Linked DNA regions of Homo sapiens: region 1 is linked to region 2. The links come from fine-mapping of genetic effects on plasma protein levels. Region 2 holds a variant in brackets. A gene starts in the other region. All regions are shown on their reverse strands.

Region 1 (4,391 bases), not on the chromosome of region 2:
GCACAGGCACTGTGGGGGGTGCCCAGAGGAGGAGGAGGTGATGCCAGAAAGTTCTGGGGGGATGAGCAGGTGGAATGAATGAGCCGAGGATGAGCTGATGAGATAGTGGAGGAAGCTGGGGTGCAATTCTCTGCCTAAATGGCCTTTGGAGTTCTCTGCAATCTCACCTCTGCCAGAACTAACCTCCAGAGGCCGAGTCTGAGTCCCTGCAGAGCCCAGCCCAGCAGGAGCAGGGAAAGGGAGGACTCGAGCCCTCCAGGTGTCTCCCAACCGCGGCCTCTGAGGGCAAGGGGCAGCGCATTCTGTTGGAACCTCGGACTGCAGTGCCAGGCAGGTAGTTCCCAAGGCTGGAGGCCAGGATCGAAGGGCTGGGCTGGGCCTGGCTCTGATAGCAAAACAATCAGACCACAGCCCAACCCCCTTCCCAGGCAAAGGCCAAGGACTTGGACCCATCAGACCCAGCCGAGGGGCAGGTGGGTCAGGTGGGGGCAGACAGGGAAGGAGGGTGGGACCCTGGGTCTGCCGCCCAGCCAGGGACCCTGCTTTGGCCAGCTGCTGAAACTCAGAGGATGTAGGACCCAGTGTCAGGGCTCCCGTGGGGACACCCCAGGCCCAGGAATTGTCCTTTGGCGACTGAAATCCTCAAGTGCTTGCTCTGCGGTAGGGAGTGGGGAAGAAGGAAAGAGTTCCCTATTAATAACAGGAACAGTTACTATTGCCGCCGCCAGACATGAGGCCTAGTCTTTTGCAGGCATGAGCTCACTGGACCCTCAAGTCAGAGCCATGCAGTGGGAATTTTAGATTCCCACTTTGCAGCTGAGGAAACGGAGGCTCCTAAAGGTTTAGGAAGCCGGGCACAGTGGCTCAAACCTGTAATCCTAGCACTTTGGGAGGCTGAGGCAGGCGGATCGCCTGAGATCAGGAGATCGAGACTACTCTGGCCAACATAGTGAAACCCCATCTCTACTAAAAAATACAAAAATTAGCCGGGCATGGTACACACGCCTGTAGTCCCAGCTACTTGGGAGGCTGAGGCAGAAGGATCGCTTGAGCCCAGGAGGCGGAGGTTGCAGTGAGCCAAGATCGCGCCACTGCACTCCAGCCAGGGTGACAGAGTGAGACTCTGTCTCAAAAAAAAAAAAAAAAAAATGGTTTAGGAGCAACTAACTCTCAGCTGGACTGCATGGAGGGACCAGGATGGGAATCCACTCTTGTCAGTCTCCAGGGCCCTGATCTCCAACCCCACCCCTGGCTCGGCAGGATTAGGATTCTACAATACATCCCTGGCAGTAACTGGCTTTGCCCACAGCTGGAAGCCACCCTCTGCTCCCTCACATCTTTAGGAGTCTTGCAAAAGACTCCATGGGGCTCTCGAAGAAGGAACTGGGGACTCTCCATCTCCCCGACCCCATCCCAAGAGCTAACCAAACACCAGGAGTTCCTGCATGTCAGGAGCGGGAGAATTCAGTGGAGATGGGATTGGGGAGACTTCCGGAGGAGATAAGAGACAAAAGGGGTGGGGTGGGGGCATGGGGAGAGGGGCACTTGGTGGTAGGCATTGCCGAACACAGTACCTTGGGTGTGGACAGCGGGGGCCCAGGCTCCCAGGAAGCCGGCCACCAGGCAGGCCAGGAGCCACAGGTTCATGCTGCAGGCGGGTCCTCCTCCCTGGGCACCTGGACGAATAACGGGGCCACCTGGGGTCGTGGAGGGAAGTGGTAAGGACTGAGGAAGAGGAGGGGAGTGGGTACTGGGAACATCCCCCCTCTTAAGCCCCAGGCATATGGCAAGGGAAGGAGGTTGTATAAAGTAGGAACAAGTTGTGCTGGAGGGAAAAGCTGTTCATCTCAGTCATGTTCAAGGAAAAGACTCACCGATATCCACTGGGTCAAGGGAGCTGATGCCCGCCGGGCTGTAGGCCAAGCTGTCCCATCTGCAGGACCAACACGCTGAGCTTCACTCTTTATAGACAGAGCCCCACCCAGCCACCCCCTGCCCGCCCTCCTCCCTTCCTCCTCCTCTCCACCTGCACTCTCAGCCTCTGGAATTCTCCCTCTTCTACAGCAAGCTCCAACCTCGACCCACAGGCCCCCTTGCCTCCCCACTCCCCATCCCAGGCCTCCCAGCCAGCACCCCTACTGTCTCCAGAAAGGGCCTTTTCCCCTGTTTCCCTCACCTGCACACACCTGGTGGACACTGGCTGCCTGCGAACAAGGCTCAGACTGCCTTGAGCCCCCAAACAAGCCCTTACCTTCATGCTCCCCCCGCCCTCAAGCCACCTGTTCCCTGGTGGGTCCCCAACTTCACTCCATTTCCCTCTCCTTCCACACCATGGTTAGGTAACTTAGCATGTCACAGAAATCCTCTGGTTGTGATCACAGGCAAATCCATAGAAACAGAAAGTAAATTAGCGGTGGCCACAGGATGGGGGGAGGGGAGAATGAAGGACTGACTGTGAGAGGGTATGGGTTTCCTTTTGTTCTGAAATTAGATGAGAGTGATGGTTACATAACTCTATGAATATAGTCAGCACGGCACAATGGTGCACCTCCCACCGGTGAACAACCCCAACAAGAAAGAAACTCTCTAGGCCAGGCATGGTGGCTCATGTCTGTAAGCCCAACACTTTGGGAGGCCGAGGCCAGAGGATTGCTTGAGCCCAGGAGCTCAAGACCACCCCGGGCAATATAGAGAGACCTGCGTCACTACAAAAATTTTTTAAAAAATTAGCCTGACGTAGTAGTGCATACCTGTAGTCCCAGCCACTCAGGAGGCTGAGGTGTGAGGATTGCTTGAGCCTTGGAGGTTGAGGCTGCAGTGAGCTGTGATCATGCCACTGCACTCCAGCCTGGGCAACAGAGCAAGACCCTGTCTCAAAAAATGGAAAAAAAAACGGTGGCCGGACACAGTGGCTCACACCTGTAATACCAGCACTTTGGGAGGCCGAGGCAGGCGGATCCTCTGAGGTCAGGAGTTCGAGACCAGCCTGGCCAACATGGCAAAACCCCATCTCTACTAAAATTACAAAAATTAGCCGAGTGTGGTGGGGGGGCACCTGTAATTCCAGCTACTCAGGAGGCTGAGGCAGGAGAATCGCTTGAACCCGGGAGGCGGAGGTTGCAGTGAGCCGAGATTGGGCCACTGCATTCCAGCCTGGGCGACAAGAGTGAAACTCTGTCTCAAAAAAAAAAAAAAAAAAAAAAACAAAAGAAAAAGAAAAAATGGAAGAAATGTTTTGTTTTTGGAAGAAAAGCCAGGAGCCCCGGGTAGCCATGCCCTCAGGAAGCAAAGCAACATTCACCGAGAAGGCATGTCTTTTTTTTTTTTCTTCTGAGACGGAGTCTTGCTCTTTTGCCCAGGCTGGAGTGCGGTGGCGCTGTCTCGGCTCACTGCAAGCTCCGTCTCCCGGGTTCACGCCATTCTCCTGCCTCAGCCTCCCGAGTAGCTGGGACTACAGGCTCCCGCCACCACGCCTGGCTAATTTTTTGTATTTTTAGTAGAGACGGGGTTTCACCATGTTAGCCAGGATGGGAGAAGGCATGTCTTCTTTCCCTGGGGCAGCAGGACCCAGCCAGGACACAGGGACTGGGGGAGACACGAGGTGAAGATTAGGGAGGGCGAAAGGAGCGCTGCAGAGGCCGCACAGCTGATTGCTTTAAACTTTTTATCGCCTGCATCCATAGCTACATCTGACCTCTGTGGGTATTTATCACATCCTAAACTCCTTTCTCATTTCTCCCCTTCCACTGGGAGCCCAGAGGCGGCGGCCCCTAGCCTACTTCCCTGTCCCAAACCACATGGCCGGGTGAGTGGGGCTTAGAGGTGGGGCCGGGCCTGGTGGGTGTGGCTTCTAGCCGGGGACGTGACTAGATAAATGACACTTAGAGCCCAGGGGCAGGGCTGGGTGGGCGTGGCTTATGGCTATGGGCGGGGCTTGCTATATGGCTCCGAGTCAGGGGCAGGGCAGAGTGAGTGGGATTTAAGACAGTGGGCGGAGCCTGACAGATGGCGCTTATGGTAAGGGGCCGGGCTTTGTAGGAGGGGCTTAGACTGGGGCGGGGCTTGCACGGTCAGCCCCGCCCCACCAGAGCAGTTAAGACGCGTCGGGGGCAGGTGCTCTCACCCGTCCCGTTGCTGCGGCCAGTGGCAGCCCACGGGCCGGGGCGCTGTTCCAGTTCCTCCGCCTCTTGCTCTGGGTGGGTGAGGCTGGACCAGGACGCGGCTCCGCGTGGCTGCGAGCGTGGGGAAGCGGCGTGGCGGGCTGGGGCCAGCCTCTCCGCTACGGCTCACTGCCCCCTACCTTCCCAACCCGCGGGCCGCGGCCAAGACGGTGTTACCCAGACTTGGGGGAGGTCCCCAACGTGAGTCTCCCTCCCTGCCTCACCCCTCAC
Region 2 (4,391 bases):
AGAAAAGCCAATCTCAAAGGTAACATATTATATGATTCTATTTACAGTAGTCACCACTTACCCTTGCTTTCAGCTACGCATGGTCAACTGCAGCCTGAAAATATTACAGTATTTTGAGAGAGAAACAACATTCACATAACTTTTATTATAGTATATTGTTATAATTTTTTATTATTGTTAATCTCTTACTGTGCCTAATTTATAAATTAAATTTCATCATAGGCGTATATGTATAGTAGGCCAGGTGCAGTGGCTCACGCCTGTAATCCCAGCACTTTGGGAGGCTAAGGTGGGTGGATCACTTGAGGTCAGGAGTTCGAGACCAGCCTGGCCAACATGGTGAAACCCCACCTCAACTAAAAATACAAAAAATTAGCCTGCGTGGTAACACGAACCTGTAATCCCAGTTACCCAGGAGGCTGAGGCAGAAGAATCGCTTGAACCTGTGAGGTGCAGATTGCAGTGAGCCAAGATCACACCACTGCACCCTAGTCTGGGTGACGAGAGTGAGACTCCGTCTCAAAAAAAAAAAGGGGGGGGGGGAAAAAACACACACACACACACACACACATATATGGTTCAGTACTATAGCTGGTTTCAGGCATCCACTGGGGGTCTTAGAACATATCACCACAGATAACGGGGACTACTGTATTATGACATTCTGAGAAAGATAAAATTATAGCGAAAGTGATAAAATTCAGACAACTGGTAGCTGCCAGGATTAAAGTTGGTTGGTTGATTGGTGGTGGAGGCTGGAAGGAGGACATGATGACTACACAGGAGTAGTACAAAGGCATTTCATTAAAATGATGGAATACTTCTATAACCTGACTAGTGATAATTACACGAAATCTATACACGTGATAAAACTTCATAGAACTGTATATTAACCATGCCAGCTCAAAATAGTTCATGTGAAAATATGAAATAAGGCATGAGGTTTAGTTAACACTATTATACCAATGTCAATTTCCTAGTTTTAATAACTATACTATGGTTATGTAAAATGTTATCATGGGGGAAGTGGGTGAAAGACACCTCAGAACTCTGTATTATTTCTGCAGCTTTTAGTAAACCTAAAATTATTTCTAAAAGAAAAGTTGAAAAAAACTTTTCAAGCACAACAGGGACCAGATTTACCCTCTCACCTTAAACCACTAAAATAACTAACAAAACATGAAACTATAGCTTTCAAGATGCTGCGCAGCAGGCAATGAGAGACAGTAATCCCCAAAGGAAGAGAAACAAAGATATGAGTCCTATGATGGCCAAACTTAGTGCCTGAAGAGAGTTTCCTGGGCACCATGCAGAAGCAGAAGCCCTATGGAGGCTGCAGAACTCAAAATTGAAGACAGCGAGCTCAGCTCAGAGTGCAGGACTTAGGCAGCTAGAATTCATGGGACAATACCACACAGTAGAGGGCTGAGGAGATCTAGAGAGGTACTCACTGAGTACTGAGTGGCCCATAGTGTGATGAAACTACCCAAGACCATGGGCAGCAAGGAGAGGAAAACAACACCCAAAAGAATTATGAACAGTACTCTGCCCTTACCCACTCAAGTAGCTATTAGACTGGAAATCTCAAGACAACCCTCAAGATTTGGGAAGAATCTTGTCTCAGAAGTGAGGAAGAATTAGCCATAAACCAACTACTACACCGTTCCCAGCTAACAAATCTTACAAACAAGACCTAAAGGAATCAACGGTTTTCAAGTGACTTAACTGCATCCAATAACAAAGTTAAAGAACATATGTAGAAATACAAATATCCCCAGCACCCAACGAGGTAAAACTCTCTATGTCTGAAATCCAATCAAAGATCACCAGGCAAGAGGCAAGGAAAAAAAAGTATACTAAAGAGAATAGTCAATTGCAACCAACCCTGAAATGACACAGATGTTAGAATGAGTACACAAGGACATTATAAGAGTTATATCTGCATTTCATATATTCAAAAACTTAAGTAGAGACAGGAAAGATTTTTTTTT[A/TA]AACCAAATCAAAATTCTAACGATAAAAAAAGGTAAAATATGGCCGGGCATGGTGGCTCACACCTGTAATCCCATCAATTTGGGAGGCTGAGGCAAGCAGATCACTTGAGGTCAGGAGTTCAAGACCAGCCTGGCCAACATGGCGAAACCCCGTCTCTACTACAAATACAAAAATGAGCCAGGCGTAGTGGCGGGTGCCTGTAGTCCCAGCTACTCGGGAGGCTGAGGTGGGAGGATCGCTTGAAACCAGGAGGCGGAGGTTGTAGTGAGCTGAAATTGTGCCACTGCACCCCAGCCCAGGCAACAGAGTGAGACTCAGTCTTTAAAAAAAAAAAAAAAAAAAAAAAAAAAAAAAGAGTAAAATATGTGAGATTTTTAAAAATGCTAAATGTGACTAACTTCAGATTACACACTGCAAAAGAAAGTAAATTCAAAGGCACAGAAATAGAATCTTTCAAATAAAACACAGGTTAAAACAAAAACTATCAGTAAGCTATGGGGCAACTTCAAGCAGCCTAATGTTTGGATAAAGAGTACCTGACTAAAAAGAAAAGAGAAATTAAATGGAAAATAATTTGAAAAAAATGGCCAAAAAAAAAAAAAATCCGAAACCTGAAGAAAGCTATAAACCGACATATCCAAGAACATCAATGAACCACAAGCACAATAAACACAAGAAAAACCATACTGGCATATCATAATCTAATGCTCAAAACCAGTAATAAAGAGAAAATAATAAAAGCAGCAAGGAAAAAAAAAGCATGCAAAATACAGAACAAAGATAGCAGATTTCTTGTTAGAAACAAGGTGAGTGACAAGACAGTGGTATATCATCTTTAAAGTATTGAAAGAAAAAAAAACCTGTCAACTACGTATTCTTTTTTTTTTCTTTGAAACGAGTCTTGCTCTTGTCGCCCAGGCTAGAGTGCAGTGGCATGATCTTGGCTAACTGCAAACTCCGCTTCCCGGGTTCAAGCAATCCTCCTGCCTCAGCCTTCCAAGTAGCTGGGATTACAAGGTACCCGCCACCATGCCTGACTAATTTTTGTATTTTTAGTAAAGATGGGGTTTCACTGTGTTGGCCAGGCTGGGCCAACTCGGCCTCCCAAAGTGCTGGGATTATAGGCATGAGCCACCACCCCTGGCCCAACCTTATTCTTAATCCAGCAAAAGTATCTTACTAAAACAAAACCAGGCCGGGCGCGGTGGCTCACGCCTGTAATCCCAGCACTTTGGGAGGCCGAGGCGGGCGGATCACGAGGTCAGGAGATCGAGACCATCCCAGCTAAAACGGTGAAACCCCGTCTCTACTAAAAATACAAAAAATGAGCCGGGCGTAGTGGCGGGCGCCTGTAGTCCCAGCTACTTGGGAGGCTGAGGCAGGAGAATGGCGTGAACCCGGCAGGTGGAGCTTGCAGTGAGCCGAGATCCCGCCACTGCACTCCAGCCTGGGCGACAGAGCAAGACTCCGTCTCAAAAAAAAAAAACAAAAAAAAAAACAAACAAAAAAAACAAAACCAGCCACAAAAGGCTACATACGCTATGATTCCATTTGTATAAAATATCCAGAACAGGTAAATCCACAGAAACAGAGCAGACTGGTGTTTGCCAGAAGCGAGTGAAGGGAAAAGGACAGAGAGAAAAATGCTTAATAAATACGGGGTTTTCTTTCAAAGAAAAAAAAATGTTTTGGAACCAGATAAAGATGGTTACCCAACACTGTGAATGTACTAAATGCCACTTAACTGTGCACTTTAAAATGGTTAAGGCTGAGAATCGCTTGAACCCAGGAGGCAGATGTTGCAGTGAGCCGAGATCGCGTCACTGCACTCCAGCCTGGGCTACAGAGTGAGACTCCATCTCAGAAAATATATATAAAATTAAAAAAATAAAATGGTTAATTTTGTTATGTGAATTTCATCTCAATTTTTAAAAGAGAAACAACCTATTGATTCATTTAACAACATGAATGAATTTTAAATGTATTTTTCTAAGGAAAGAAACCACACCCAAAAGGATACATAACAATAACTTTATAACAGTGTTTTAACTAGATACTATAAGGCTACAAACGAACCGATCTATACGTAAATACCCTACTACAATTGGTAAATTTGTTTCACATCTAAGGAAACATGACAACTAAATGCAATGTGGTATTCTGACCGTGTACTGTAACAGAAAGATAACAGTGGAAAAACTGATGAAATGCAAAGACATTACAGGCGTGAGCCAAGGCACTTGGCCTATAACTTTTAAACTTATGTCCCAGAGCAAGTTTGTCCAACCTGCGGCCAGCAGGTCGCACACAGCCCAGGACAGCTTTCAATGCGGCCCAACGCAAACTTTGTAAACTTTCGATGCTGCCCAATACTAATTCATAAACTTTTCTTAAAACAC

Alleles and levels. Alleles are on the strand shown, and positions count from the first base shown. The strength of an association depends on the size of the effect and on how common the allele is.
For the plasma level of the protein whose gene starts at base 1,937 in region 1, A is the low allele of the variant in region 2 and TA is the other (weak association).

The links. A credible set is the group of variants that fine-mapping cannot tell apart. PIP is the posterior inclusion probability: the model's chance that the variant is causal. The UK Biobank Pharma Proteomics Project read protein levels with antibody pairs (Olink). The fine-mapping took linkage between variants from a reference panel, not from the people measured, so its PIPs are less certain.
Region 1: it holds the start of CCL25, and the variant in region 2 is the best candidate, but not a certain one, in a credible set for the plasma level of the CCL25 protein (UK Biobank, PIP 0.58).

The regions. Positions count from the first base shown.
Region 1 is chr19:8,050,306-8,054,696 of GRCh38, reverse strand. It overlaps CCL25 (C-C motif chemokine ligand 25), which reads right to left and starts at 1,937. Exons shown (of 6, transcript NM_005624.4): 1 at 1,875-1,937; 2 at 1,575-1,697. The coding sequence starts at 1,647. RefSeq lists silencers at 3,935-3,994, 4,295-4,384.
Region 2 is chr20:32,397,703-32,402,093 of GRCh38, reverse strand. All of the region lies in intron 4 of ASXL1 (ASXL transcriptional regulator 1), which reads right to left. Among named protein-coding and RNA genes, the nearest start is that of ASXL1, 42 kb to the right of the region's middle. The variant A/TA (reference allele first, on the strand shown) is at 1,992.